7 linked regions of the Homo sapiens genome follow. The protein of the gene in region 4 interacts with the protein of the main gene of each other region in a biochemical or structural test. Each region holds a gene or a part of one and is shown on either strand. Other genes may lie near its edges.

Region 1 (4,499 bases), on a different chromosome or scaffold from region 4:
TTCCCAGATACTTCTGGATGGCTGTTTCGTAGGGAGCATTGTGTGTGGATGTCGTAAGTGATGGAAATGGATGGGGCAGGATGGCCATCTGGGAGCCTCTGCCTCCTTGGTCAGCCCTGCGTGTCCATGACTACAGCATAGGGAGGGGACTTGAGCCTCACTAGTAGGTTCTTTGAATATGTTGATTGGTTGTGCTGGAATGGATCGGTTCTCTCCACCACTTAAAGTTCAGCTTAGTTGTCATTCGTGTCCCCCCCCCCAAAATGACATAGGGCGTGGTGAGGCTGGTAGTGATTGTAAATATATGCTCGCTCCTGTTATAATCGTTTGGAAATTGACCCAGTACAGGGCATGTGGCATGAAAATGCAGGCCACCCCAATGGCCTGCCCCGGTGCCCTAACAGCAGAGCCCAGCAAACTTTGAGTACTTGTGAGGCCTCATCTCACCAACAGCTTTTTCTTTTCTGTTCCCTGTGCAGTACCTGCAGATGAAATGGCCCCTCCTCGATGTCCCCTCCAGCGCCACAGTCAAGGACACGAGGTCACCATCTCCAGCACACTTGGTAAGTCTGTTTCACCTTAAAGCACCAAAGGGCCACTATTAGTGGCCTCATCCCATGCCACTGCCTTCTGCCATCACGCTGAAGCAGATGGGGTCCAACAGTGTTTCCTCAAATGTGTGAGTACAGTGAGGAAGAGCTGAGTGCTTGGGGCTAACAATTGGGTTGTGACCTCAACACACACACCACACCGCCTCAGATGTTTTGTAATTGGAATAGCCGTCCCCCAACCCCCATGGCCCTGGCTGCTCACCCTGGTTCATCACAGAAGCCTGCCTGCGATCCTTCCCGGCTGCCATCTGAACCCGCTGCCCACTTCACGTGGGCAAGGGTGGCTTCTCTGTCCTGTTGAGGCTTACCCAGAATTGCCTCCTCTTCTCCCTCATAGCTGCCAGGCAATAGTTGAAGAGGCTCTTCTGTTTTTGTTTTTGTTTTTGTTTTTGTTTGTTTTTTGAGACGGAGTCTCGCTCTTTTGCCCAGGCTGGAGTGCAGTGGCACAATCTTGGCTCACTGCAACCTCTGCCTCCCAGGTTCAAGCGATTCTCCTGCCTCAGCCTCCCAAGTAGCTGGGACTACAGGCATGTGCCACCACGCCTGGCTAATTTTTGGTATTTTTAGTAGAGACGGTGTTTCACTGTGTTAGCCAGGATGGTCTCGATCTCCTGACCTCGTGATCCGCCAGCCTTGGCCTCCCAAAGTGCTGAGATTACAGGCATGAGCCACCGCGCCCGGCCGAAGAGGCTCTTCTGTACAGGATGTTATAGGAAAGAATTCAATAGGACGTATGCAAACAAATGCTCCTCAGGGCAGCCGAGCCTCTTCTGCCAGGCCCTGTGGCAATACCAGCTGGAAAGGAGGGTCTGGACAATCCTGGGAGACAGGAGCAGTGGATCCAAGCAGTACCTCTGGCCTCCTCAGGACATGCAAAGGACTGAAACCCAAAGCTGATAAGAGATGCTCCTGGAACAGAACCAGATATCCTACTTTCCTGGGCTTTTCCTGGGTGCTTGGGTCAACACTTGCCTTAAGATGCACTCACCCCACAAGCTAACTGGTGCTCGCCGACTGTACAGTGAGCCTCAGAATCAGGGAATGCGGTTAGAAGGGACCCTCATCCTGCATGACCTATGCATTTTACAGACGAGCAGACATAGGACTTCACTGTTACTGCCCTGTACTAGGTATTAGGCGTTGGGCTTCTATGATGTTTATTAAAGTTTAATTACAGAAAATTTTAAAGATGTATCAAAGTAGAGAGAATTACATAATGAATCCCCATGTTCCCTTCACCCAGAATTTCCCTCCTGCTACATAGGGGATTTAAAGTGAATCCCAGACATTACTTCATCTCATAGGACATTTTAAGAGATACTGATAGCTGGGCGCAGTGGCTCACGCCTGTAATCCCAGCACTTTGGGAGGCCGAGGTGGGCGGATCACGAGGTCAGGAGATCGATACCATCCTGGCTAACACGGTGAAACACCGTCTCTACTAAAAATACAAAAAATTAGCCAGGCGTGGTGGCGGGCGCCTGTAGTCCCAGCTACTAGGGAGGCTGAGGCAGGAGAATGGTGTGAACCCCGGAGGCGGAGCTGATAGTGAGCCGAGATCGCGCCACTGCACTCCAGCCTGGGTGACAGAGCGAGACTCTGTCTCAAAAAAAAAAAACTGATAATTCTTATTCATTAAAAGCTTAGAGTCTAGCAGAAGAGAAAGAAGATATGTGCAGAAAGCTAAATAAATAAGGGTGCAGGGAGCCTGTATGATTTCCAGTAATCAGGAGACCTGCTCCTGTGGAGCCCTTGGGAGTTTACAGTGGGATCTACAGTGGGATGCCACATGCAGCTCTCAGGTGATTGTCACAGCCATCACCAGGGAGTCAGGCAAGGATGACAGTGGAAGGAACCGTGAGTGCGGGACCAGCCATCCGGGAAAGGCAGCAGGTTCTGCAGCCAGTCGCCAAGGCACAAGCTGCTGTTGAACAAGCACTCCACACCTCAGGCATAAGCCAGGGTAGTGGCTTTGGCCCAGAGTCCCACTTGGGATAGCCAAGCACGAGGCGCGGGTGCCCTCTAGTGGTGCCAGTCAGCCCTGGTGGAGGATGTGCGGACCACATCTGCCCACCCTAGACCTGGCTCGTGCCCTGCACCTCCCCCCAGTGCAGCCATCTCTGTTTCAGATCTGTGCCTTCCTCTACCTCTCCTGTGCCGTCTGCCAGCCCACTCCTGAAGACCTGAGATGGCTGGGTCCTCTGTCTTAGTTTCTCTCTGCATATTGTCGCATCTCCATCTACTTTTCAAGAATGTTATTTCCCTTTAAAAACTAACACATGAGGCCGGGCGTGGTGGCTCACGCCTGTAATCCCAGCACTTTGGGAAGCTGAGGCAGGCAGATAACCTCAGGTCGAGAGTTCGAGACCAGCCTGACCAATGTGGAGAAATCCTGTCTCTACTAAAAATACAAAATTAGCCAGGCATGGTGGCGCATACCTGTAATCTCAACTACTCAGGAGGCTGAGGCAGGAGAATCGCCTGAACCCGGGAGGCAGAGGTTGCAGTGAGCCGAGATTGTGCCATTGAACCCCAGCCTGGGCAGCAAGAGCAAAACTCCATCTCAAAAAAAAAAAAAAAAAAATCGGCGTGGTGGTACGCGCCTGTAATCCCAGCTATTTGTGAGGCTGAGGCAGGAGAATTGCTTGAACCCAGGAGGTGGAAGTTGCAGTGAGCTGAGATTGCACCACTGCACTCCAGCCTGGGCAACAGAGCAAGACTCTGTGACTCAAAAAACAAACAAACAAAAAAAAAAACTAACATATAGTGGCCAGGTATGGTGGCTCATGCCTTTAATCTCAACACTTTGGGAGGCCAAGGAGGGAGGATTGCTTGAGGCCAGGAGTTTGAGACCAGTCTGGGCAACATGGTGAGATCTCTACAAAAAAGACGGAGTTTTGCTCTTGTTGCTCAGGCTGGAGTGCAATGGCGCGATCTTGGCTCACCACAACCTCTGCCTCCTGGGTTCAAGCGATTCTCCTGCCTCAGCCTTCCAAGTAGCTGGGATTACAGGCATGTGCCACTATGCCCGGCTACCTTTGTATTTTTAATAGAGACAGGGTTTCTCCACGTTGGTCAGACTGGTCTCAAACTCCCAACCTCAGGTGATCCACCCTCCTCGGCCTCCCAAAGTGCTGGGATTACAGGCGTGAGCCACTGCGCCTGGCCAAAATTTTTAAAATTAGCCAGATGCAGTCATTCACACCTATAGTCCCATTTACTCAGGAGGCTGAGCTGGGAGTTCGGAGCTGCAGTGAGCCATGATTGTGCCACTGCACTCTAGCCTGGGTGACAGAGTGAGACCCTGTCGTGAACAAAAAAACAAAACTAACACGTGTACTCTGAGTTTCCCATTCTTCCTTTTGCACAGAGCAATCCTCTGAGAAATGAAAGAAAAACCCTGTGTTCAGCCTTCCTGTTCCTGTGAGCACCGTCCTGTTTCTTTTTTATTGTTTACCGCCTGACTTCCCACACCTCTGTCACCTCCTTTATTCTGCCACTCCACTGCAGCCCGGCTTAGCGCTTCAGTCACCATCGAATAACTAACTCCACTCATTTTCCTGCTTTTTTGCAACACAGCCGACAGCCAAGGCCTGACTACTCTCTGCTTCCTGTAAATCTTATCATTGACTCCAAGATACTGTATTAATACACATAATCAGTTGTTTGTCTTTTTGAAGCTTCCATTTTCTTTCTAGACTTTTATTCAAATAAATCAACTCTTCATCATCACTTATTCCTCTCAATGTTTGTGACAGAAAAAATATATAAAATCCCATCAAGAGAGCTGTAGAACTCTCAAGAAAGTTCTACACCCGTAGTTCCAACTGCCAAACAAACATCTAACCATTGCAGATGTGTGCTCTGCAAATAATAACTCAGCATTGT
Region 2 (4,499 bases), on a different chromosome or scaffold from region 4:
TAACTTTTATTGGAGGCACATCACCTCTTAAAACTTTTAAGTTTCAAACTTGTAACTTTTGATTTTTGAGTTGTCACTTGGGTATTTTATAAATGTGAAAGAAAATTATTTCTTGATATTATGGTTTTTGTCTAGAACTGGTTGAAATAAGCCCGAAATTCTAGCACCTAAAACTTTTTTAAAAAAAGTGATTTAGGCTTGCAAATTTCGTGATGTAAATATATCCACCAAGAGCGTTCTAATGTCAGCTTTAAAGGAAAGAAAACTGGAATCCAATGGGATGACATGCTAAAGTGTTACAAATCAAATTATTACTTAAATCTCAACCTCTGAATTGCTGTTTAATACTCAGATATTCTCCTAAAAAATTTCCAGGTTGATTCAAATAACTTAGGTTAAACTCAACTTTTACGTGTTGGGATGGGGAAGAGAAGACTTATTTGTAGCCTTCACACCTTTATGTTCCTGTTTCAGTATTTGCATTTGATCCATTGAAATTTTTATTTCATTTGGTATGGTTAGGGTAAAACAAATCATTTGAGAAATGACATTTTGTTCTCCCTCTCCCTCCAAAAAAAAAAGATTATGAAAGCCACTTGTAAACTTTTTTTGTAAAAATGACCAAAAGACTGGAAAAGTTAATGTTAGGCAAATCCTGGAAATATCTTTTGGAGCTGTTTCTGATCATCTTGAGTGATGGAAATGATGAGGGTCATCTGTTGTCTTCATTACTCAGTGAACACGTTTTGTCACTGCTTGGTAAACGCTTAATGCCGTATGCACTTAAAAAGCACCTGGAAAGATAGGATTTTAGGATCTGGCATATAATTAAGTAGGGTAAAGATCCTTCTGGTCTTGGTACAGTTTTGTGGCCCTGGGTTTTGTGCTTTTTTGTTTTTTGAGTTTTTCCCCCATTTCAAAGACACAGGGCAGATAGTGTGTAAAGTATACCTGCTTTTTGACCAGTAGATTAATGTACACAGTGGAGAAGTGGTAAGGCTTTTTAAAATGTCAGCTCTACTTTTTTTTTTTTTTTTTTTTTTTGAGACAGAGGTTTGCTCTCGTTGCCCAGGCTGGAGTGCAGTAGCTCGATCTTGGCTCACTGCAATCTCAACCTCCCAGGTTCAAGCGATTCTCTGCTTCACCCTCCTCAGTAGCTGGGATTGCAGGTGTCCACAACCATGCCCAGCTAAGTTTTGTATTTTTTAGTGGAGACAGTATTTCACCATTTTGGCCAGGCTGGTCTCGAACTCCTGACCTCAGGTGATCCACCCGCCTCAGCCTCCCAAAGTGCTGGGAATACAGGCGTGAGCCACCATGCCCGGCTGTCAGCTCTATTTTCTTAAAATGCCATTGTGTTAGTGGTTCGTCATCCTAACCAAAACATTTTGATCAAGACCATTTATTTTCCAGCTCTGTAACTTGTGATATGCTATGTTTTATTTTATTTTGGCTTGAATGTTTACATAAGAGTTTGCTTCTGGAGTCTTGCAGATATAGCTCCTGATTTAGTGAGGCATTTCTCTCCTCAGTATTAAATTGCAAAACATTTTACTAAAGTGCTTTAAGTTTTTCTGGCAATTATTCTCAAGGCCTTGTAAGTTCATTTATAGGACTTCAAGAAGGTTGTCTCTGGTTGATAGTGAGATAAAGTGACTTTTAAGTTGTAAATCTTGAATGCGTTACAATATGGGGGTCTTATTCCAGCAGGAGTTCATCTTCTATAGCAGAGGTTGGAATTGTATTGGCATGTCCAGTGAATGGATAATAGGGAGGAGGGAGGAAAGGGTTTCTGCCTTGGTGGCCTTTTGGCATTATTTTGTGTTTTTCTTTGCTTTTCTCTCTCTTCTTTATTTAATAAAAACAAAAAAATGGAAACAGTTGAAAATTAATGCAAAGTGGTATTTGTAGGGACATTAAGTGGTAAATAGGAAAGAGAAAAAGAGTAGGAAGAGTGTTGCAGATACAAGTGGGAGTGTAAAATACTTTTTCCTGGTATATTTACAAAAACAATTTGAGAGTTATTCTGCCAATTCATATACCCAGCAATTAATGGAAAAGTAAAAGATGCTAGTTTTATGTTTGTCCAGATTTTAGGGTTTCCTTCTTTGAAGATTTCTAAAGTTGAATATTTTTTTAAGTGAGGCAAGCAGTAAAATTAATGGGCAAATGAAACCAATTATACCAAGTCTAAAATTTTTCTTTTTTTTTTGAGGCAGAGTCTCGCTTTGTAGCTGGGACTACAGGCGCCTGCCACCATGCCCAGCTAATTTTTTGTATTTTTAGTAGAGACGGGGTTTCACCATGTTGGCCATGATGGTCTCGATCTCCTGACCTTGTGAACCTCCCATCTCTGCCTCCCAAAGTGCTGGGATTACAGGCGTGAGCCACCGCGCCCAGCTAAAAATTTTTTTTTTTTTTAATACTTTTAAGTTTTAGGATACATGTGCACAACGTGCAGGTTTGTCACATATGTATACATGTGCCATGTTGGTGTGCTGCACCCATTAACTCGTCATTTAGCATTAGGTATATCTCCTAATGCTATCCCTCTCCCCTCCCTGCTAAAAAATTTTTTAACATTGAACTTCGCAGGTGATTTTTTTTCGCTTAATAGACGGTAGTTTCATTTTGAAATTTTCATGGGAAATTACTGCTCACTTTCCCAGAAGCGCTTAAGAGGATAAATAATAATTGAGGTGTTAAGCCTCTTCTGAGCAATTTGGATATAATTTGTTTTTAGATCTAGATTCTTTTTTATAAATGTCCCAAAGCAATTAGAAGTGATTGTTTTTTTTGAGACGGAGTCTCGCTCTGTCGCCCAGGCTGGAGTGCAGTGGCGCGATCTCGGGTCACTGCAAGCTCCGCCTCCCGGGTTCAAGCCATTCTCCTGCCTCAGCCTCCCGAGTAGCTGGGACTACAGGCGCCCGCCACCACACCCGGCTAATTTTTTGTATTTTTAGTAGAGACGGGGTTTCACCGTGTTAGCAAGGATGGTCTCCATACACTGACCTCGTGATCCGCCCACCTCAGCCTCCCAAAGTGCTGGGATTACAGGCGTGAGCCATAGCACCTGGCCCTAGAAGTAATTTTGTTGAGAGAGAGAGAGTAAAACTAAAAGTACTGAAAAGAGTAAGAGAGTAGCTAAGAGAATGAGTATTGGAGTCAGACTGCTAGAGTTCATAGCCCAGGCTTGTATTTATTAACTGTGAACTTTGGGCCAAATACTTAACCTGGCTCAACCTCCTCACATTTATTCCTAACCACAGCCCTGTAAGGTGGGTGCGCACCTTATAGGAATCCACCTTACTTACCCACCTTACAGGATTGTGGTTAGGAATAAATGAGAATTCTCTTTATCAGATGCTTAGGACTATGCTTGCTTCTGTGTAGTATGTGTTCATTGTTAACTGTTTTTAACTTTACTGCTAAATATATCAGAAGGAAAGCAGTGGTAGATGGTTTGGGGGTTGTTTTTGTTTTTTTGATTTGCAACGAAGTCTTGCTCTGTTGCCCAAGCTGGAGTACAGTGGCGTGATCTCGGCCTATGACAACCTCCGTCTCCCGGCTTCAAGCGATTCTCCTGCTCAGCCTCCGGAGTAGCTAGGACTACAGCTGCGCAGCACCATGCCCGGCTAATTTTTGTATTTTTAGTAGAGACAGGGAGTCCTGACCTCGTGATCCACCCACCTCGGCCTCCCAAAATGTTGGGATTACAGGCATGAGCCACCGCGCCCGGCCTGTTTTTGTTTTTCGTGGATATACAGTAGTCCCCCCTTATCCTTGCGGGATACATTCCAAGATCTCCAGTGGATACCTGAAACCCTGTATAGTAGTGAATATAATTGTCATCAGTCAGAACACGTTTCTGTCCGTGTCTTCCACACACAAATTTAATGCCTTTTCCATCTTAACTAATCACTTGTCATGCACTGTGGCTGTGATGTTTGCAGTTTGAGGTACAACAGCAAAACTATCACGAATTTTTTTCCTTCACAATTTCATGTATAGATTTGATCTTTGTAACCTCCGCATACAATTTTTTTTCATTCCTTATTAAGTCAAGAACTTTCACCTTCAAGCAATTTACAGCTTCTCTTTGGCATATCCATATAGCTGTCATTGCTACTTTTGGACTTAGGGACTGTCATTAAGTAAAATAAGGGTTACTTAAAACTCAAGCATTGCCCTGCCCCATAGTCAGTCTGACAATCTGATAACTGAGATGGCTACTAAGTGACAAATGGCTGGTAGTTTATACAGGTGAATACATTAGACGGAGGGGAGATTCACTACCCGGTCAGGTGAGATTTCATCAGGCTACTCAGAATGGCGCACAGTTTAAAACATTGTTGTGGCTCACGCCTGTAATCCTGGCACTTTGGGAGATTGAGGCAGGAGGATTGCTTGAGGCCAGGCATTCAAGACCAGCCTGGGCAATGTAGTGGGACCCCCCATCCCCCCACCATCTCTAGAAAAAAAATTTAAAAAGTCAGCAA
Region 3 (4,499 bases), on a different chromosome or scaffold from region 4:
CATGGTGGCACACAACTACAGTCTCAGTGACTCAGGAGGCTGAGGTAGGCAGATCACTTGAGCCCAGGAGTTTAAGACCAGCCTGGCCAACATGGCAAAACTCTGTCTCTACAAAAAATACAAAAATTAGCCAGGTATGGTGGTGCGTGCCTGTAGTCTCAGCTATTCAGTAGGCTTAGGTGGGAGGATCACTTGAACCTATGAGTCTGAGCCTCCAGTGAGCTATGATCATGCCACTGCACTCCAGCCTGAGTCAAAGAGCATTACCCTGTCTCTAAAAAAAAAAAAATAAAGAAAGAAATGGCTGGGCACGGTGGCTCATATCTGTAATCCCAGCACTTTGGGAGGCCGAGGCGGGCAAATCAAGAGGTCAGGAGTTTGAGACCAGCCTGGCCAACGTGGTGAAACCCTGTCTCTACTAAAAATACAAAAAATTAGCTGGGCATAGTGGCGGGTGCCTGTAATCCCAGCTAGTTGGGAGGCTGAGGCAGGAAAATTGCTTGAACCCAGGAGGCAGAGGTTGCAGTGAGCCGAGATTGCGCCACTGCACTCCAGCCTGGGTGACAGAGCAAGACTCTGTCTCAAAAATAAATTAAAAAAATAAATAAATAAATGAGTAAAGCTATGCTTATATTTCCTTTCCAGATTGATAACAGTGCTCCTCACTTGTCACCAGTGTCACTTGTCAACAGTGCACCTCATATGTCACGTTACCTGTTCTGTTATGGAAGGTGACGTGAGGTGTCCTGAAAAGGGGGCAGGTCCACGACATGGCGGAGCTGACAACAACACCCCCCCAACCTGTACATTTGCTTTTAGCATAATGCAACCTATTGCAATTCACCTAGGCCTAGTTAAGTAGATTTCCTGATAACACCCTGGTTTTTGGGGAGAAAAGGAGGGGAGAAGCAAACTTTTTATTTAGGCTGGGAGCAGTGGCTCACACCTGTAATCCTAGCACTTTGGGAGGCCAGGGAGGGAGGATTACTTGAGCACAGGAGTTCAAGACCAGCCTGGGCAACTTAGCAGGGCCCGTCTCTACCAAAAAAAGGTTAAAAAAGAAAAAAAAATATATATATATATAACATTAATACAGAAAAGTCTACCACAAATCATAAGTGTAAGGTTTCATGAGTTTTTACTACACAAGTATAACCACCCTCCAGGGCCAGGCGTGGTGGTTTATACCTGAAATCCCAGCACTTTGGGAGGCCAAGGTGAGAGGATTGCTTGAGCCCAAGAGTTCAAGACCAGCCTGAGTGACACAGCGAGACCCCCATCTCTAAAAAAATTAAAATCAAGTATTTTTTAAATTTTATTTTTTATTTATGATTTTTTTTTTTGAGACAGAGCCCTGCTCTGTGCCTCAGCCTTGTAAATAGCTGGGATTACAGGTGTGTGCCACCATGCCCAGCTAATTTTTGTATTTTTAGTAGAGACAGGGTTTTACCATGTTGGCCAGGCTGGTCTCGAACTCCTGACCTCAAGTGACCTGCCCACCTTGGCCTCCCAAAGTGCTGGAATTACAGGTGTGAACCAACGCACTGGCTCAAAACATTTTTTTAAAACCACCCTCCAGATTGGGATACAGAGCATTTCAGCACTCCATAAGCCTCACCTGGCCACTGTACATGCACAGAATTGCACAGTGAGTCCTCGTTTGCATCTGGCTTCTCACACTCAACGTCATGTTTCTGACATTTATCCATGCAGCTGTGTGTAGTTATAGTTTGTTCATTTGCATTGCTGGATAATATTCTATTGTATAAACACAGCAAAATTTACTTGTCTACAGAAGATGGACATTTGAGCTGTTTGCAGTTTTGTTTTGTGTTTCTTGAGACAGGGTCTCGTTCTGGTCCCCCAGGTTGGAGTGCAGTGGTACCATCTCTGTTCACTGTAGCCTCAACCTCCCAGGCTCAGGTGATCCTCCCATCTCAGCCTCATGGGTAGCTGGGACTATAGGCACGCACCACCATGCTGGCTAATTTTCTGCATTTTTAATAGAGATGGGAGTTTCGTCATGTTGCCTAGTCTGGTCTTGAACTCTTGGGCTCACGTGATCTGCCTGCCTCAGCCTCCCAAAATGCTGGAATTACAGGTATGAACCACCACACCCGGCCTGTTTCCAGTTTTTGACCACCAAAAATAGTGCTGCTAGGCCAGGCATGGTGGCTTATGCCAGTAATCCTAGCACTTTGGGAGGCCAAGACAGGAGGATCACTTGATGCCAGGAGTTCAAGACCAGCCTAGGCAACATAATGAGACCTCATCTCTACAAAAAATTGAAAAATCAGCCAGGCGTGGTGGTGTACCCTTGTAGTCCTAGCTACTCAGGAGGCTGAGGTGGAAGGATTGCTTCAGCCCAGGAGTTTGAGGCTGCAGTGAGCTGTGATCACCACTGCACACTTCAGTCTGGGCAACAGAGCAAGACCCTGTCTCAAGAAAAAAAAAAACTACTGCTAAGAACATAAGACTTGAGCATGTATATCTACATGCATATGTACACTTTTCTGGTTCCATACTTAGGGGTATAACTATAGAGTCACAGAGCATTCATATATTTAGCTTTAACAGATTCTGCCAAATGGTTTTCCAAAGTCATTGTACCAATTTAGACTCCTATCTGTAGTTTGCAAGAGATCCTTGTCAATATCTGGCACTTTCTTTTTCATCTTTTCCATTCTGGCAGGTATGTAATGGTGTTGCATTGTTTAATTTGCTTTTCCCAAATAACTAATTAAGTTGAGCATCATTTAACATACTCCTTGGACATATATGGATTTTTTTGTGGCATGCTTATTCATGTATTTTGCTTTTTTTTTTTTTTTTTGAGATGGAGTCTCCCTCTGTCATCGGGCTGGAGTGCAGTGGCACAATCTCAGCTCACTGCAACCTCTGCCTCCCAGGTTCAAGTGATTCTCCTGCCTCAGCCTCCCGAGTAACTGGGATTACAGGAACACACCACCATGCCCAGCTAATTTTTGTATTTTTAATAGAGACAGGGTTTCGCTATGCTGGCCAGGCTTGTCTCGAACTCCTGACCTCAAGCAATCTGCCCGCCACAGCCTCCCAAAGTGCTAGGATTATAGGCATGAGCCACCGCGCCCAGCCCTCTTTTGCCATTTTTTAAAATTGAGCTGTCTATCATGTTCATTTTGTAAGGGTTTGTAAGGGTATTTATATACGCTGGATACAAGTTTCACTACTGTATATATGTACAGTACTGAAAATATCTTCTCCCACTTTTTTCTTTTTGCTTTCTCCTTCTTTTTTTTTTTTGAAACACAGTCTCGCTCTGTCACCCAGGCTGGAGTGCAGTGGTGCTATCTTGGCTCACTGCAACCTCTGCCTCCCAGGTTCAAGAGATTCTCCTGTCTCAACCTCCCAAGTAGCTGGGATTACACACACCTGCCACTAAACCCAGCTAATTTTTGTGTTTTTAGTAGAGATGGGGTTTTGCCATGTTGGCCAGGCTGGTCTCGAACTCCTGACCTCAAGTGATCCACCCACCTCCGCCTCCTAAAGTGCTGGAATTACAGTCATGAGCCACTGCGCCCGACCTCTTTTTGCTTTCTTTTTTTTTCCTTTTTTTTTTTTTTTTTTGGAGACAGAGTTTCGCTCTTGTGGCCCAGGCTGAAGTGCAATGGCGCCATCTCAGCACACCGCAACCTCCACCTCCCGGGTTCAAGTGATTCTCCTGCCTCAGCTTCCCAAGTAGCTGAGATTACAGGCATGCGCCACCACGCCCGGCTAATTTTTGTATTTTTAGTAGAGACAGGGTTTCTCTATGTTGGTCAGGCTGGTCTCGAACTCCCAACCTCAGGTGATCCACCCACCTCAGCCTCCCAAAGTGCTGGGATTACAGGTGTGGGCCACCGCGTCCGGCCTCTTTTTGCTTTCTTAATGCAACCTCCGCCTCCCGGGTTCAAGCGATTCTCCTGCTTCAGCCTCCCAGGTAGCTAGGACTATAGGCACGCACCACCACATCCAGCTAATTTGTGTATTTTTAGTAGAGACGGGGTTTCACCATGTTGGCCAGGATGGTCTCAATCTCTTGACCTCGTGATCCACCTGCCTCGGCCTCCCAAAGTGCTGAGATTACAGGTGTGAGCCACAGCTCCCAGCCAGAAGTTCTTAATTATAATGAAATCCAATTATTTATTTATTTATTTATTTATTTTGAGATCAAGTCTTACTCTGTCGCCCAGGCTGGAGGGCAGTGATGTGATCTCAGCTGACTGCAACCTCTGCTTCCTGGGTTCAAGCAATTCTCCTGCCTCAGCCTCCTGAGTAGCTGGGATTACAGGCGCCTGCCACCACACCCAACTAATGTTTGTACTTTTAGCAGAGATGGTGTTTCGCCATGTTGGCCAGGCTGGTCTTGAATTCCTGACCTCCCAAAGTGCTGGGATTACAGGCATAAGCCACTGCACCCAGCCCAATTTATTATTATTTCTTAATGATTAGTGCTTGTATTGTATTTTTAAAATGTTTGC
Region 4 (4,438 bases):
ACTAACTTTAGCTTTGTATTAAGTAGTTAGGCCTTGACAGCTGCTAGAGCAAGTGCTATTTTTCCTAAGCGTCTTGGCTATTATTCACCCTTGGTACTTCCAGAGCCACCTTGTTGAACTGGATTAACTCTCACATTAAGTTTTTAAACTTCAAAAATAAAATACAATGAATTAGCAAAGCTCTGAAAACATTCTCTGGTTTTAAAAAGTTGTTCTTTCTGTAATTGAAACACCGTGCGGTGGCTCTTTATGTTAAAAGCTGAATTCACTGAAGATCTTCACGGTGTTAACCTACCAATAGCCCTAGGCTTCTTGAAATACTGGCTGGTTTGGTTTATCACACATGAGACAGAACCTGAGACCTACCACATCATCAGCTATGTGAATGTTTCTTTTCAAACCCTAATTACATTTTAGACCACAATGAATTCATTTTTGCAAAGCAAGGGCATTCACAAAAAGGCCTCCCCAGATGAAGCTGATTTTTAACGAAAAAGAACTGAATGTATGTTTTTCTCATAATTAATAGTCACTATCAATCATCATCAAAATAAAAACAGTAAATCAGAAAGAGCTCTCCCTAAAGACAAAACACTTCTTTCTTTTACTTTTTAAAAGACCAAAACACAAGTCTTAACAAACAGGTCTACCTGAAGAGATGAGATGAACTAAGCTTGTCAGACCTACCACCGGGATGATAGGATCATCTGGCAGGTACTGTGGAAGGCTCATTCTGGTTCTGATTATGTTCAGATAAACATCAACACTTAAACCTATTTAATTTATTTAATTATTATTAGTTCAAAGTCCAGTTGAAGGAATTCCCCTCTCCCAATGAGTCACACTTGGGTGAAGGTGATTCAAATCCAAATCCAGGTAGGGGTAGTTACTATTTATTTCATTACTTTAATGGAATCAAATCATCTGAGGGGGATTGGGGTAGAGATAGATAGATGGATAGTCTGCTTGGCTTTCTCCCACCAAAGCCCAGAACTAATCACAATGTGCAAGGCTGAAACACTTTTTTAGGGGTCCAGCGTAATCCAGGGCCAAATGCTAAAGAAACTTGGCAAATTGCATCTAGAGAAGTAGGGCCCTCTCTATCGCTACAACAAATTACTTCACTATGTATCTATCTATCTCAGGATAAAGTTCAGGATAAAGTTGAGTTGGATAAACTTACTTACCACCCTCACAAACCATTTATTAATGACAAGAAAAAAAGAAAGAGTGACACAATCGAATGAATTAAAAGTTTAATTCTGAACCATTTTTTATAACCGCATTTTCTCTTGAAGCATCGTATCACAGCAGGTTACAACAACTTTGGGATAAAAGGCAACTGGTAAACTGTCCAAAACAAGGTTCCAAATAACACCTCTTACTGATTTACCCTACCCATACATATCCCAAATAGTTTTTGATCAAAAACATGAAATAGATCCACCTGCTTATTTTAAGCATATTAAAAAGGAAACTAATTGGACCATTTTCTATTTGTCTATTTTATACAAAAAGGCTACACAATTGTTACACTTTATTCAGATTACAATTAATTAGAGTGATTATGAATTAGTGTTCTACACCATTACTCAATTCTTAAAAATTAGAAATTGCTGTAGCAGTATTCACTATAACTTAACACTACGAGAGACTTAAAAAACAGTTACTGCAAAAAAAAAAAAAAAAAAAAAAAAAGAGCTACTTCAAAGCAAGCAAAGTCAGTACCATTACAGATATTCTTAAAAAAAAAAAAAAAAAAATTTAACAAGCAAGGCTAGGGTTTGATAAATTCCATCTTGTGATCCATTCTTGTGCATTCTTCACTTCTTGAGTCACTCCCAAAATCCATTTGTATTGTTACTCCTCGACCAAAAAGGACCAGAACAAAAAGTTTACTTCAATTGTTCCCATAGGAAACTCAGCTTGGTTAGTGTGTCAGGCACTTTCTGAGATACCAGCCCACCCCTCGAGCCCTCTCAGCAACTCTACAGGCCAATCACAATGCAAGTTCAGACAATACAGCTGTATAAAGAGAGAAAGGCTGCTATTAATGTTTAAAACAGCAAATGTTACTCATTTGAGTATTAAGTTGCAAAAGCTGTGGCAAAAAACATTAAAGTTAATAACTTCCACACATGATCACATAACAACCAGAAATCTGAGAACATTCCAATGTTCCAAGACATCTCCTTTCAAAGTATATACCTGTTTTTGTGGCAGATTTACAAATAGCCTAAACCACTCCCACCCTACCAACCAAGTCTTTCTGAAGTTCTGTAGGCAGAGTAAAAGTATTTTACCCAAACTGGCTTTTTAAAACTTCTTACCTAAAGGATGATTTACAGGTCAGTATCAAACCAGGCCAGCTGATTGCTGTCACCTGGAGGCAGCCCATCCATGAGGTCCTGGGCATGCCCCAGATCTGGCAGCCCATCAACTGGATAGTCAGCACCAGGGTGGTGGCCACCCATCTCATGTTCCATCATGGGGTCCATACCCAAGGCATCCTGGCCATATCCACCAGAGTGAAAAGAACGATAGCTAGGATCTAGAAGAGTCAGGGTGTCAACAAAATAGGCAAGAAGGAAGGCAAAAGAGAGAGGAGAGAAGCAGACATAGACGTTAACACTGAGGTTAGGGCATCCAAAGTTCAGCAGCAAACTTGTCAGAAAACAACGCTTTCTAGCCTCTTCAACCTCCAGCTTTCTTTAGCCAAGTAATTACTCAGTGCCAGGCCACCCATGAGACTACACAAATAACATCTATTTCCATCAGACAGGCACACCAGCAGGGCCTAGTCACATCATTAGTCTAACCCTGAACACTCTGCATTTACCCCTGTCAAGAGACTTGGGGTTCCCGAGGAGAAGAAGCAGGAATCTACTGTGTGACCACCTAGGCAGTGAGAAGTCATGGGAAGGAGGATTAAGACAATAATGAGGTCTGGCAGGTGTAATCTATCTTGACAAAAAGGCCAAGTGACACCCACAAAAGTACTAAGGAAAGGCACTATTTCCATGAAACCTCAACATATTTTATCTTAGGGTTGACATGTTATTTCTCACAGTAAGAATCTGCGCTTTAGTGGTTTCATAATTAGGTAGAAGCAGATGCGGTTATAAATGTAAGACAGTTATAATTGTTAGTGGTCTATGCCATCCTCCATGTTCATTACCCAGATTTAAATTAGCTTTTCAAGAAAACCCTGATGATAATGCAACTATGTAAAAACCCACCCGAGATCTGAGCCTAGAAACAGGAGTTTTCCTATCTTCCTTGGGTAGCTTGTAGACAAAGGTATTATGAGTCCTCTGGCCAAAAAGAGAATAAAAAGCCAGGTAAATTGTAACATCCTGCACTGCAGAGGCCTAGCAGTAGCATGTATTTGTTGGTGGTGTAATCCTACTGCTACTCATTGTGTGGCTCTGAATTCCCTGTGCTCCATTAAAGATACTGTTGCTGACTGGAATTTAAGAACTGCTTTTAATTGAAGCCACTACTTTTCTGCCAACACTGGTTTCCCAGATGAGCAAACCGGCTCTTCTGATAAAAGTTTTAGAACTTTAGCTTGATCTGGAGTTAATCGAGAAATATGAGACACATACCATCCTGGCGATATCCAAGGGGTTCTCCCTGGGCACCAATATCAAGTCCAAGATCAGCAGTCTAGATAAACATGCACAAAGCAAGGAAGAATAGAAAGCAAAATGAAAATTCTCAAAAGTACACTAATTTTTTTTAAAGCATACTTTCAGATTACAAAAGGAACAAGTAACTCCAACATTACACAAATGCTTAGAAAATGGAAGTTCTTCAAAACTCCACACCTCAAAGATACATTTTTTTTTCTCTTTGCACCTCACATTAAAAATACTCACTGACTTGTTCTTTCAACAAATATTATATTAAGCACCTATTATGTGCTGCCAGGCACTGTTCTACATGCTAGAGATATAGCAGTTTAAAAAAAAAAAAAAAAAAAAAGGCAAAATGCCTACCCACAAACAGGAGCTGCTGATAGGATGTGTTATATGAAAGAAAAGTTTTAGCCTGAGCAGCTGGACAGACAAAGCTGACATTAACTAAGACAGAGAAGACAGTGAAAACAGGTTTGTGGAAGGGGGTAGGTGGAGAAAGTTAAGGGCTCAAGTTGGAACATGTTAATAAGATGCCTATTAAAAACCCAAGTAACACACTACTCACTGGTAATTTGCTTTTTTTTTTTTTTTTTTTTTGTGTTGGAGTCTGGCTCTGTCACTGAGTGCAGTCTGTTAACTCCTGGGTTCAAGCAATCCTCCTGCCCCCGTCTCCCCAGTAGCTAGGACTATAGGCATCCATCTCCATGCCCAGCTAAAGATGGGGTTTCACTATGTTGCCCAGGCTGATCTTAAACTCCGGTCTCAAGAGCTGCATCGTTGTAAACCTAACAATCTCT
Region 5 (4,478 bases), on a different chromosome or scaffold from region 4:
GAGGCAATATAAGCACACAATACTTTTTTTTTTTTTTTTTTTTTTGAGACAGAGTCTCGCTCTGTCGCCTAGGCTGGAGTGCAGTGGCTCAGTCTCGGCTCACTGTAGCCTTTGCCTCCTGGGTTCAAGTAATTCTGCCTCAGCCTCCCAAGTAGCTGGGACTACAGGCGTGCACTACCATGCCCGGCTAATTTTGCATTTTTAGCAGAGATGGGGTTTCACCATGTTAACCAGGCTGGTCTCAAACTCCTGACCTCAAGTGATCCGCCCACCTGGGCTTACCAATGTGCTGGAATTACAGGCGTGAGCCACAGCACTCAGCCAAGCACCCAATATTCTAATTCCAAAATTTTTAGATCTGAATTAAGCACACTCCATTTATAGTCAATTTAATTTTGAAACCGAAAAGACTCTACAACACATCTATGTTGAAAACAGCTGCAATTTAAGAAATCTTAGTTGCCCAACCTTCCAGTCATTCTGGATTTTAAATCTTTCCAGACTGCCACCCTATTTGATATATACTTTTATGTAAGATATTTAGACACTATAAACTACTTTGAAAGGGGAAACTTAAGGTCTTATAGCACTCAAGCCTGGGCGACAGTGCGAGACCCTGTCTCAAAAAAATAAATAAATAAAGTAAGGGAATATAACTATCTTCCCTCCAACTCTGTGCTTTGGTATCCTTATATGCAAAATGGAGACAGGATGTACTTCACAGGGCGCTGATTAGGCAAATACATGTAAAGCACTTAGAATAGTGCATGACACTCAGCAAATGATGGCTAATACTATCAATCTCTGGGTTTAAAAGGGTGATATAACAAGAGGAGCACCATGGCTTAACTGCATGAAAGCAAGAAAATCAGGTTGAGGTCTTGGCTCTATAAAGCTTACCAATTACCAACATGCCTTGCCTTGGGCAGCCCCACTCTTTTCTGAAACAGTTAACTGTTTCTTATTACTGTTATGAGGAATAAAAGAGATGACATATATTAAGGATTCTGAAAACTAGTTTGCAAAATGGTGATTTTTCTAACACATAAAATCCTTTCACCTTAAATTAGCTGACATTCAAGTTAGAGCTTTCTCTTCTCTCCATTTTTAAGTCAACATGGAATCATGGTATCTTATTCAGTGAGTTGTAACGTTGCTACCAGTTTATTTTGATAATTGACACAGATTTAGCAAGTATAATCCTTCAAGTGGCTCCTGTGCCCTTTTGACATGTATCCACCTTTTTGTTGTTGTTGAGACGGAGTCTCACTGCAACGCCCAGGCTGGAGTGCAGTGGCACGATCTCAGCTCACTGCAACCTCCATCTCCCGGGTTCAAGCGATTCTTCTGCCTCAGCCTCTTGAAAAGCTGGGATTACAGGCGCCCGCCACCACACCCGGCTAATTTTTGTATTTTTAGTAGAGACAGGGTTTCACTATGTTGGCCAGGCTGGTCTTGAACTCCTGCCCACTTCGGCCTCCCAAAGTGCTGGAATCACAGGCGTGTGCCACTGCTCCTAGCCAACCACTTTTTTTTTTTTTTTTTTTTTTAGATTTCCTTTGTGGCACCATAATAGAATGTTCCAGGTTCATCTCATATTTCTCCATCCCAGGAGCCATTATTACTCTACTTTTGAGTATGTCCTCAAAACTGGTCTAACAAGTCATTTCAGAAAATAATTTCACTTCAACAATACACTGTTTGTTGATTCAACACAAACTGCATGGGCTGCTTAGATCAATTTACACTTGGTTCATCGCCATCTTTGGCTGTTTCAAACATACACTGCTAAAAAAAAAAAAAGATTGTCATTAAGAATATTACAATAGAAATGGAAGTTTTGAGGAGGAAGAAAATCCCCCAAAATGTAAGCAATGGTAATAATGCATTTAAAGTATAGTCTCACAAAGTCTCACTTAAGAGAGCAGCACACCCAGGACACACATATTGATCTGCTGACACCACTTCTTTACTATACTTCATATAGATGTCCTCACATCTTGATTTACATGGTTATAACTGCTTAAAAACTGGCAAAGAGAAAACCTAAAATAATGCTTTATACCAGTTTGAGTCAGAACCAGACTGTTCCAGACTAGTTGGAAAACGACCCAGGAACTCACCTGCATTAAATGCTGAATTTAACTGAGCTAAAAATGTCTAGGCCATCCCTTCTTAGAATTCCCATGACTCATTCTAGTCAAAAGCTATAAGAACATATTCCTTAATAGTTCAGCAAACTTTAGGGAAAACTAGCTCATTGTCTTGGGTTCTAAAGTCCTTTTGTTTGATTATTTTTATTATAATGAAATTAAACTTATGACTATTACAGTATGCTCAGCTTAAAACATTTATGAGTACTGCAAGGACTAACAGAAACAGGAAAAATCCTACTAAAAATATTTGTTGATGGGAAATCATTGTGAAAGCAAACCTCCAAATATTCATTTGTAAGCCATAAGAGGATAAGCACAACCATATGGGAGGAGATAACCAGTCTCTCCCTTCATATATATTCTTTTTTATTTCTTGTTATACCTTCCCAAAACAGAGACATTCAACAGTAGTTAGAATGGCCATCTCCCAACATTTTAAAAAAACTGCACCCCCCAATGGGTGAACAAAGTAAAGAGTAGTAACCTAGAGTTCAGCTGAGTAAGCCACTGTGGAGCCTTAAGTGGTGAGGTCTTCCAATTTCAGAGTGATGTGTCTTCAACTTGTATCATCATTTTAGCGGAAAAACATAATTTAATTTTGGTGAAATGAGATTCATCTCGTAACAGGATTAGTAACAGCATTCACTGAATTTCACACTCTTCTTTTGTGAACAGTGAAGAAAATGAATGGTAGCTAGAAGATCAATGGGATTCCAGCTCCAGCTGCAGATGGAATGACGATATACCAGGACAAAAAACACCTATATTTTGATTTACAAAGCTAACAGCAGTTTTAAATCTGCAACTTAATTACAGACCAACTACACCACAACCTTTTCAAATGGCAAAAATACAAAAAAGTGTTACAAAAATATTTCAGAAAAAGTGCATAGTCTAAGTGCATAGTAAATAAAAGCACTGAAAAATATCTTGCTAGAGGGAGTTCAGCTTGGAAGTTATTACCAAAGCTAAACATTTTTATTTTACACAAACTATACTCAAAAATAGCTTTATGAGACTGATTTCTGGCTAAAAGTATCAAAGGGTTTATTAGTCAAGAAACAAATACCTCAACCGACAAGGGTGGATAGAAAAGAAACAAAGAAGCTGCCTACCCCAGAAGTTCAGACTTAATAAAATTTCTTCAGTATTACGGTACTAATATCCCTTAATGGCAGAATGTGATAATCATGGAATTAATTATTGCTAAAGTAGTTTTCAAATAAAAAAAAGAAAAAAGAAAACAAAACAAATTAAACTTGACACAATCTGACCAAACACGTGTCAATTTACAATTTCAAGGTTATTTTACAAAATACCTACATTTACACAATAGGCTCCCGGCAGCATTTCCAGACAAATGTTCTTTTAATTTATCCTGACATGCTATAAATGAATAAATTACACTATTTAAAAATTATCATCAGTAAGTTTTCCTTTCTCATGGGTCAGAGAAAAAGAAATGAGCGTGCAAAGAAGATTGAGAGGAAGCGCACGCACACAGATAACTTAAAGAAGCAGGAGGGGCTGGGGAGGGTCAACAATCACTGAACCTCACACAGTGTGATGCTCTCCAAGGGTGAAAGTCAACTGCTTATAGCCATTTCAAAAGTATTTTAAAGAAAAATGTTTTGTAGGGAAACCCTTTAATGCTTTCATTTTTATTCAAAATCAGTCCAGCTGCTAGTCAGCGGGCAGCAGCTACAATACCAAGTTCTGGCAGTTGCAGTACTAGATATTGTGCCTGCAAGTCATAAAAAAAAAAAAAAAAAAAGAAAAAAATGAAAGAATGCCTTTCCCCTTCAGACAAAAGAATTACTTTTTTCATTTTTCTTAAAAAAAGAGGAAAAGTTATAACACGAAACCTAAATTGACTTGCAAAGGAATACCATGTAACAAATGGCTTGAAGTAGTCTATCAAAAAATTGGGGAGATTTTTATTTAATAGTGAGTCAGCAAGGCATTTTTTGTTGTTTAAAAAAAATCTCATTTCCTTACAGAAACAGTTTTTAGTTTTTAATGAACTTGTAAACAAAAAAGCTCCCATTTCAAAATAAAAACAAAATCCCAGATCATATAGATGTTTACAGTGATTACATTTATCTAAGCAACATACATACATGTTCAGTTGTAAGATGTTAACTAAATTTCTGTGACAAATATGCTTTTTTTTTAATACCAAGAACATTATAGAGTTAATGCAGAGTCCTAAGGATAATCTAGTAGTCACTAAGTTTTTCTTAAGTCTTCACTTTAGATGCTGTTATTTCTAGCACAATTAAGCAGGCAGAGTCTTTCATATGCTCAAACACTGGAATCTTT
Region 6 (4,499 bases), on a different chromosome or scaffold from region 4:
TCTGACTCTAATATCTGTGCTTAATTCCATTTTGATTCTCAAACTTGGTTATGTGGCAGAATCACCAGGAAAGCTTAATAGTATAAATTATCAGGTCCTACATGTACATGGAAATTCTGTTTGCTTCTTTTTCTTTTTTTCTTTTTTTTTTTAAAAGAGATGTGGTCTTGCTATGTTACCCAGGCTTGACTTGAACTCCTGGGCTCAAGCAGTCCTCCCACCTCAGCCTCTGGAGTAGCTGGGACTATAGGCATGCGCCACCACACCCGGCTAATTTTTAATTTTTTGTAGAGATGAGGTCTCACTGTGTTACCCATGCTGATCTCGAACTCCTGGCCTCAAGCAATCCTCCCACCTCAGCCTCCCAAATTGTTGGGATTACAGTTACAACTACACCCAGCCTAGAACGCCAGATTTGACTTACTCACTGTGTGATCTTGTTACTTAGCCAATTTGTGCTTCAATTTTCTCCTGTGTGGTGAAAGTATTAATAAATCTACCTATAATAGGATTATTGTGACAAGTAACTGAGTTAATATATTTAAAATGTTTACTGCTTGGCACTTAGAAATGTAATAGTAGTAATAGTGATGGTATTTTTATGTGTGTTTTCTTTTAAAAAATTACTAATTTTTAATTATACAAATCAGAAATTAGAATATTATAAATAATACTGATCTTTCCCCCTCTGTTCATCCACCCACAATTAAGTAGCATTTCAAATCCAGTCCCTTTTTATTGGAAATAATTTTTTTTATTGTAATGTTTTTCTTTCTTATTAGGTTGAACCATGCCAATGTTGTAAAGGCCTGTGATGTTCCTGAAGAATTGAATATTTTGATTCATGATGTGCCTCTTCTAGCAATGGAATACTGTTCTGGAGGAGATCTCCGAAAGGTAGTGTGGATGTTTTGAGATGAGAGAGAGTAAATCACAAACTTTAGCAATGTTTGAATCATGTTAAATATAATAAACTAGAATAAGAATCGGAAAAACTATGGTCTGCTTCCTGTTTTGTAAATAAAGTTTTATTGGAACACAGCCACATTCATTTCTTTACACATTGTCTATGGCTGCTTTCTTATGGCTGCAGAAGTGAGTAGTTTTAACAGAGACTATGTGACTTGCAAAACCTAAAGTATTTACCATATGGTTCCTTACAGAAAATGTTGACTCCTGATTTAGAAAATGCATTTTTGTTGTTGCTGTTTGATGGGACTATAGCAATGGTGTTAGATGAAAATTTCAGTGGTTAAGGTGCTTATAAAAAGTTGTTTTCTGTATTGCAATCTTTTTTTTCTACCTAATTTTAAATGTGCCCATATGACCATTTTTATATATATCCATGAGATTTGTCAGCCTTTTCCAGTTTCAAATGCTTTTTGCCTCTTTTTACTTTTATGAGCCTTATCATGAAATTTACATGCCCTCAGTATGGATTTGGTAATTTTATTCCCTTGTATTTTATTATGACTTATTTTCTCATTTGAATATTCTTTTAGAGTATAGTAATTAATGTGTGGTCACTATTGCAGCCCAGCAATTTGCAGAACAGATTTTTAGATTTCTTTCTTTTTTTAGCTGCTCAACAAACCAGAAAATTGTTGTGGACTTAAAGAAAGCCAGATACTTTCTTTACTAAGTGATATAGGTACGTATCAGTATTAAAATACCATTGTAATGTAATGTCCCTTTGGCCCATAAAAGATCTTTTTGGGAATTCAGGAGAATTGTTGATACACTATACAAAGTCTATAGAATTTCAACATCTATAAGAAGTTATAAAAATCTATTACTATTGATGCTAAATTAAAACTAGGATATTTTGGCTAGGTGCGGTGGCTCACGCCTGTAATCCCAGCACTTTGGGAGGCCAAGGTAGGCGGATCACAAGGTCAGGAGTTCAAGACCAGCCTGGCCAACATAGTGAAACCCCATCTCTACTAAAAATACAAAAATTAGCTGGGCACAATGCCGCATGCCTGTAGTCCCAGCTACTCGGGAGGCTGAGGCAGGAGAATCGCTTGAACCCAGGAGATAGAGGTTGCAGTGAGCCGAGATTGCACCACTGCACTCCAGCTTGGACAACAGAGTGAGACTTTGTCACACACACACAAAAAGAAACTAGGATATTTTATTATTTATTTGTGGCTAAGAGTCCTTTTTTTGTCTAATAGATGTTCCAATAGCTGACAAAAAAATCATGTGAAATGACCTTACTCAATTTCTCTCCCCCCCTACCATTGACATAGTAATTTTGTTTACAGTGGAATTACATCTCCTTGAGGGATGGGTCCTCAAGTCAACTCTTTTTTGTTTGTTTGTTTTGAGACGGAGTCTAGCTCTGTTGCCCAGGCTGGAGTGCAGTGGTGCGATCTCAGCTTACTGTAACCTCTGCCTCCCAGGTTCAAGCGATTCTCCTGCCTCAGCCTCCCGAGTAGCTGGGATTACAGGTGCCCGCCATCACACCTGGCTAATTTTTGTATTTTTAACAGAGACGGGGTTTCACTGTGTTGGCCAGGCTGGTCTCAAACTCCTGACCTCGTGATCTGCCCGCCTCGGCCTCCCAAAGTGCTGGGATTACAAGCGTGAGCCACCGCACCCAGCCAAGTCAACTCTTCAGGGTGAAAAATCTCTGCTTAATCAGAATGACTCCAGAAAAATTCCTAAAATAACCAGTACCTAACCTTTTGGAGGAACCTCAAAAACCAAAAATTTGTTTCCCCATAGATTTTGGTTTTGCCTCTTTTCCAAGGTCATGAGGGCTAAAGTCCAATTGAAATGAGTGATTTAGGTGGGAGAAAGAGGCTTATAAGAGTTTCAGGGATTTTCCCAATTGCTTGTTGCATTTCTATTTGGTGTTAATTCTAATGAGTTAAATGAACATATAGTATAATTTTGTAGTATTTGTTTAATGTTACTTTTTTTTCTGTGAAGAAAACCTGGACACTGTAGTATTAGTTGTGTAGTTACGATGATCCATATAAACTTGAGCATCAGAGTAGATTTGTACAAAATGTGAGGTGAATTTTTCTTTTAACTCAATGATTTCTGTTACTTTAAAGTATATTTTAAACTTTATTTAGGGTCTGGGATTCGATATTTGCATGAAAACAAAATTATACATCGAGATCTAAAACCTGAAAACATAGTTCTTCAGGATGTTGGTGGAAAGGTAGGTGAAACCTGAAGTAATGTTTCATGCCTATTGAATATAGTCTCTCTGATATAGTTAGTCCTTGAGCTTTGGTGTCTTTGCTGTATGCCCATAACAGTCTTACTTTTTCCATTTCAGACCTCACCACACTGAACTGTAGTTTTGTGTTTAGTTTTTTTGTCCCTTCTGCTAAACAGTGGTTCCATCAGAGAAGGAACAGCACCTGCTTTTTTTTTCTTTTTCTTTTTTTTCATTTTTCATACTTAACCCAGCTCCTAGACTTCACCTGTCTTGTTCAAGTCTGTTTTTCCATCATAGTATCTAGCAAAGATACAGGCTGTGAATACATAATATGTTAACACTTATTATTTTATTCTTATGAAGCACATCCAAAACACATACATGCACATCCTGGGTCCACTTTAAGAAAAAAAAGAAAGTATATATATTTTTAAAACTTATTTTCCTTCCCCCAATTTAAATGAGTCATCTGGAGAAGAACCAGAAATTGTGAATTGACTCTTAAAATGTTCATTTCATTGGTAACTTAAGCAGTTTTCTTGTTTCCAGCATCCAAATTTCATTCCAATAAAGACTTAAAGGCCAAGAGTCTGAACCTTGTGTTGAGTTGTGTGTGCCGTCTCTTTAGTTAGTGAAAATAGTTGTTGGCCTCTTGGAGGTGTTGGAACCTTGGTGATGCCTCTTCTCTTAGGAACCTTTCACGTATGCTTGGCACCAAATATCTCTGCTTTTTTTTTTTTTAATCCAAAGACTTCAGGACATTCCTGAAGTTAGATCTAAGTATTTACTCACATTTAATCTACTATAAGGAGGTATGATGCTTCTTCAAGTTTGGAAGTCACCCTTGCCTTTACTTTCCAGTTTAATGGATTGAGCTTATTTTGAATATAGTAAAATAAAAATTAATAGCCCACCTGTATTCAATTTTTACCATGTACCAAGCACTGTGTTACCTTCTTTACTTTCGTTATTTCATTGGATCCTAATAACAATTCTGTGAAGCAGGGACTGTTAGTCATCCAATTAGATTACTGAGAGAGGTTAAATAACTTGGTAGATCACATGCCTAGTTAAGTGGTGGCACTCAGACTTGAAATATTTTTGTGTTATTACAGAGCCCAAGGTCCTCACCACTACCCTGTCTACAGCCTCGTAAGGATATTGTTGTCTTTCCTTTTTAAATTTCTCTACCATTTAATACTTAATCTGTCTTATTATTTTGCAGATAATACATAAAATAATTGATCTGGGATATGCCAAAGATGTTGATCAAGGAAGTCTGTGTACATCTTTTGTGGGAACACTGCAGTATCTGGTGAGA
Region 7 (4,499 bases), on a different chromosome or scaffold from region 4:
TTCAGCAAAAATGTGGAAGTACTGACTGACACATAAACTACTGTATCAAATCATAAAAGGAAAATGTGCTTTGTACCCTTAGTGTGTATAATATTTAATCAAAAAATTATATCAATATAAACATGTTTCTTAAAGGTATACTATATATTTGTCATAATTTTTTGCTTGTTATGTTCTGGGTTATTCCCATTCCCGATGAACACATTTTAGTCAATAGAAACCCAAATCTGACGTAAAGTATACTTTTCAGAAATGTATTTTTATCACAAACAGGATATACATGTGTAAATTAAATGTAATTTTTATTTGTTCTGTGATAAAGACCTTAATCATGAGGTTCCTGCTTACAGCTTAATACAAGAAACACCCTGCTTCTTGCTTTATACTACAACCACACTTAGCTATTAACTATCTCCTGCTTCATGTCCTCTTTCTCTAAAAGGGGCTTTAGTGCCCAACTGTGTGCTTTCATACCAACTTATATCCAAGATTTAGAAAAGTGGACTCTAGCATTTACATAAACTTAGTTACTTGTTTTTTTTTTGTACAGACTATATTAGATACTTCTTTAAAAATTATAAGCATACATGCTTTGAAAGTGTTAATGAAGAGACAAAATGTGACATAAAAACATTTATTACCTTCCTGTTTTCATTTGTAATTGGAATTTTATCACCATTTTCCTTTAGATCATACATCATTGGGTTACCAAAAAGATCTGTCTGTGATATCTGGAAAGTGATCATCATGTCATCTTCCACATTCCCTTCATACTCCAATAAATCTTTTAAACTCTGATATAGAACCTAGCAACCAGAAATGGTAAATTGAGGCCACCATAGAACTACAAAATACAACAAATAATTTATATCACTCTTCTTAGAAGACAACAAAAATCTTATCAATAAAAATTGTAAAAAGTGTAGACAGTATCCCTCCAGTCCCCCAAATAGTTTCCAACCTATAAAAGAAAGATTGTCAGTCACTGTGATGTCCCATTCTCTGCTGAGAAACCCCATACCACCAATTTAGCAATAGAATTCACACTGTGCTCTATGAGAAATTCTGTGGTGTCTCAAGGTGGGGGTGGGGGTGGTAGGAGCAGGCACACTCGTTGTAACTACCAAGACCCTTAGCCAGGGCTACTCTGATTTTTACCTATCTCTTAAGATTTCACTAAAACACAAACAAAATGTTTAGAAACACTTCTCTATGAAATCAATCTTACAAAAGCTTCGTGCTGACAGCAATATATAAAAATGTCCCCCTTTGAGTTTTTAAGTGTTTCTGGTACTTCGGTCAGATTAAAACATTTTTATCTTATTGATAAGAGTATCAACAAAGATTCTAAACAAAAACTTTAAAATTTTGACATAAATTAAATTTTTGCATTTAAATAAAATCTAAGAGACTGAATTAAAAAAATGACAAAGAACTTACTGGGTGAGAGTCTCCCAAGTCACGAAAAGTTCCTTTTTTCCCCATTAGCTTCCTGTAGACAACCATGGGAAAATGTACATCCAGTATACAGTTATTGTAAATAGCCAGACCCAGTACTATGCCAATCAGAGTAAACTGACCCTCAGTTTCAAAAGAAGATGGATTAAACCAAAACAATTTTGTAGATTCATCGTATGTGAACATACCTATAAGAAATGATTTTTAAAAATACATTACTTTTGTATTTTATTAAGGACTGATGAATAATACAAATATAAACTTAAAATAATTATGCATATAAAACATTTAAAATATATGTAATTAGGCATGCAACATTGATTTCTATTATATTAGCACTTGAGAAAACAATGTCCACATATATCTGCTATAAATTGGGGTGAATGGTGATATGTAATTTTATGAAGCCAAAGGAATAAAGTAGTAAGTAATTTGGTGGCATCGGGTAGAAAAATACGTTAATTAAATTCAAGCTTTCTAATTTTCTACTAACACATAAGAAAAGTTATATTCATGCTTTATCCACCCATAGCTGAAAAATAAACATAAAAAAACAAAAAATGGCTACATTTCCAAAGTGTTTCATTTATAAAAATATAATTACTTATATCTGTACCACACGTACTATTTTTGAAAACAATTTTTCATTTTTTTCCTTGAGATGGAGTCTCGCTCTGTTACCCAGGGTGGGCTGGAGTGGCACGATCTCAGCTCACTGCAACCTCTGCCTCCTAGGTTCAAACAATTCTCCTGCCTCAGCCTCCTGAGTAGCTAGGACTACAGGTGTGCACCACCACGCCAGCTAATTTTTGTATTTTTAGTAGAGAAGGGGTTTCACCATGTTTGCCAGGATGGTCTCAACCTCTTGACCTCGTGATCTGCCAGCCTCAGCCTCCCAAAGTGCTGGGATTACAGGCGTGAGCCACCACACCTGGCCTAAAAAACAATTTTTAATCACAGTAAAGAAAGGTTCGTTTTTTCAAAATTAGACAATGGTGCCATGAAATTTTTCTAGCATTTTCCTAATAAAATCAGATGATCTGAAATACATAAACCTGGATAAATCTGATGAACTTAGATAAACAAAGCTATTCAATACACATGTTAATTATGGGCCAATACGTAAAAGAAAAGTAGTTTCGTAGTCTTTCAATTTCACATGGTCTTCACTATGCAAGCCCCAATCATGGAGGCTTTTTTTTTTTTTTTTTTTTTTGAGACGGTCTCGCTCTGTCGCCCAAGCTGGAGTGCAGCAGCACTCAGCTTAGTGCAAGCTCCGCCTCCCGGGTTCATGCCATTCTCTGGCCTCAGCCTCCGGAGTAGTTGGGACTACAGGCGCCTGCGTGGAGGCCTTTTTTATATCACTCATTGGAAAATTGGGGCCCGGTGTGGTAGTTCACACCTGTAATCCCAGCACTTTGGGGAGGCTGAGGCAGGCAGATCACTTGAGCTCAGGAGTTCAAGACCAGCCTGGGCAAGATGGAGAAACCCCATCTCTACAAAAACACAAAAAATAAGCTGGGTGTGGTAGCATGTGCCTATAGTCTCAGCTACTTGAGAGGGTGATGCATGGGGATGGTTTGAGTCTTCAGCCTGGGAGGTGGAGGTTGCAGTGAGCCGAGACAGAACCACTACACTCCAGCCTGGGCCTCAGAGCCAGATCCTGCCTCCCTCCACCAAAAAATAAAAGATTAAAAAAAAGGAAAATTGGAATCTTTGGAATGAGTACTACTAAAAATTGATTTCTTCCCTTTTAAATGACTAAGGAAAAAAATTTTAATTGAATTTAAATCATTTTACTACATGTTTAGTTGCTACTGTGAAACAATGAAAACATCTTAAGAATTAAGTCTGAAAAAAATCTGTAATTTCCAATAGAAAAGTAGAGCTTAGAAATCAGAAATCAAATTATACAGTATATAAGTATTTTAACCTGTTTATAAGAATTTTAAAATCTTTGAAAATGTCATTGTCACTTTAAGTTTAAAAATAAGGAGCTTTAACATGTTTCCTTGATCACTAGGAGTATGAATTAAGCTTAGGACATTTTCTGAATGCAAAATGGTTTGAAAATTAAACAATTCATATTTGAGTTTCATGGTTTCTATCTAAACATTTTTTTTACAGGCCAAGTTACAACATCCATGGAAATGCTTTTAGTTATAAGTATGGTATTAACAGGATCAAGAACAGCTGACAAATAATTACAATTAATAAATTTGTTCAAGCTGACAATGGTGTGTCTAAAAAATTAATGAATTTAATAAAATGTCACAAATGCCCTTCCTTGGAACCAAGAGCAACAAGCTATAAGTTAATCAGAATATAACTCTGAAGTTCCATTTTAGGCACATTTTCTCATGTTCCAGGGAGAAAAGCACCATAACCTCCTGGTAAAATACTCCTTTTTGATACTTCTACTGCCATCACTTCAGTTATCTTACTGGAACTGCTTAATCTATGTTTTTTCTTACAAGTATTTCTGCATATAATGCAAGTATGCTTTATAGCTAAGGTTTAACATTTCTAGATACATCAAAAGCTAGAGCTAAGGTTTACCAAATTTAAGAACTTTATGAAGTTTATAATTTTCTATCTCAAAAAGGGCGTCGTCTTATGTATCTCTGATTTACTTAGAACAAACTACATACAAATGGCATAGCTTTTTAGTTATTAATAAAACACTAGCTAGATTATAGATAAGGGATGCGTGTGTGTGTGTGTGTGTGTGTGTGTGTGTGTGTGTGTGTGTGTGACTAAGAACAGTAACAGAAAGGTCAACTCAATTAGAATCAACAGGCTATAACAGCTCAAATCTCAAAGCTGAAGGGAAATGACATACATTATTCTATGCACACTCCTCACAATTCTGATGGTACCTTCAGTGGAAACCTTTTCCTGTAATTGTCATGTACTCAATTTTAAACGTAAGCAAGCTCAGTTACTAAGTGGTTATATTTACAGTAGAAACTGAACCAGTTCAGAATTATGAAGTTAAGTAGACTACCCAAAAGACTGCATCTTTTCCCTGTTCTACTTTA

Evidence for each region.
Region 1: the proteins of CTNNB1 (region 4) and TCF7L1 are reported together in a solved structure, tested with the Homo sapiens proteins (2 studies listed by BioGRID, with this or other methods).
Region 2: the proteins of CTNNB1 (region 4) and EP300 form a complex in vitro, tested with the Homo sapiens proteins (3 studies listed by BioGRID, with this or other methods).
Region 3: the proteins of CTNNB1 (region 4) and CBY1 form a complex in vitro, tested with the Homo sapiens proteins (2 studies listed by BioGRID and IntAct).
Region 5: of the proteins of CTNNB1 (region 4) and CSNK1A1, one has a biochemical effect on the other in vitro, tested with the Homo sapiens proteins (2 studies listed by BioGRID).
Region 6: the proteins of CTNNB1 (region 4) and CHUK form a complex in vitro, tested with the Homo sapiens proteins (2 studies listed by BioGRID, with this or other methods).
Region 7: of the proteins of CTNNB1 (region 4) and UBE3A, one has a biochemical effect on the other in vitro, tested with the Homo sapiens proteins (3 studies listed by BioGRID).

The regions. Positions count from the first base shown.
Region 1 is NC_000002.12:85,283,016-85,287,514, forward strand, and holds part of TCF7L1 (transcription factor 7-like 1), read left to right. Parts: intron 1-479; coding exon 480-563; intron 564-4,499. UniProt on the Homo sapiens protein: Participates in the Wnt signaling pathway. Binds to DNA and acts as a repressor in the absence of CTNNB1, and as an activator in its presence.
Region 2 is NC_000022.11:41,095,592-41,100,090, forward strand, and holds part of EP300 (histone acetyltransferase p300), read left to right. Parts: intron 1-4,499. UniProt on the Homo sapiens protein: Functions as a histone acetyltransferase and regulates transcription via chromatin remodeling. Acetylates all four core histones in nucleosomes. Histone acetylation gives an epigenetic tag for transcriptional activation.
Region 3 is NC_000022.11:38,662,805-38,667,303, reverse strand, and holds part of CBY1 (protein chibby homolog 1), read right to left. Parts: intron 1,759-4,499; exon of another isoform or gene 1,619-1,758; intron 1-1,618. UniProt on the Homo sapiens protein: Inhibits the Wnt/Wingless pathway by binding to CTNNB1/beta-catenin and inhibiting beta-catenin-mediated transcriptional activation through competition with TCF/LEF transcription factors.
Region 4 is NC_000003.12:41,237,247-41,241,684, reverse strand, and holds the end of CTNNB1 (catenin beta-1), read right to left. Parts: intron 3,670-4,438; coding exon 3,609-3,669; intron 2,552-3,608; coding exon 2,343-2,551; 3' UTR 2,026-2,342; coding exon of another isoform or gene 1,939-2,025; 3' UTR 1,242-1,938; downstream 1-1,241. UniProt on the Homo sapiens protein: Key downstream component of the canonical Wnt signaling pathway.
Region 5 is NC_000005.10:149,491,834-149,496,311, forward strand, and holds the end of CSNK1A1 (casein kinase I isoform alpha), read right to left. Parts: 3' UTR 1,149-4,478; downstream 1-1,148.
Region 6 is NC_000010.11:100,219,264-100,223,762, reverse strand, and holds part of CHUK (inhibitor of nuclear factor kappa-B kinase subunit alpha), read left to right. Parts: intron 1-782; coding exon 783-897; intron 898-1,581; coding exon 1,582-1,651; intron 1,652-3,086; coding exon 3,087-3,175; intron 3,176-4,403; coding exon 4,404-4,493; intron 4,494-4,499.
Region 7 is NC_000015.10:25,355,251-25,359,749, forward strand, and holds part of UBE3A (ubiquitin-protein ligase E3A), read right to left. Parts: intron 1,647-4,499; coding exon 1,441-1,646; intron 807-1,440; coding exon 642-806; intron 1-641. UniProt on the Homo sapiens protein: E3 ubiquitin-protein ligase which accepts ubiquitin from an E2 ubiquitin-conjugating enzyme in the form of a thioester and transfers it to its substrates.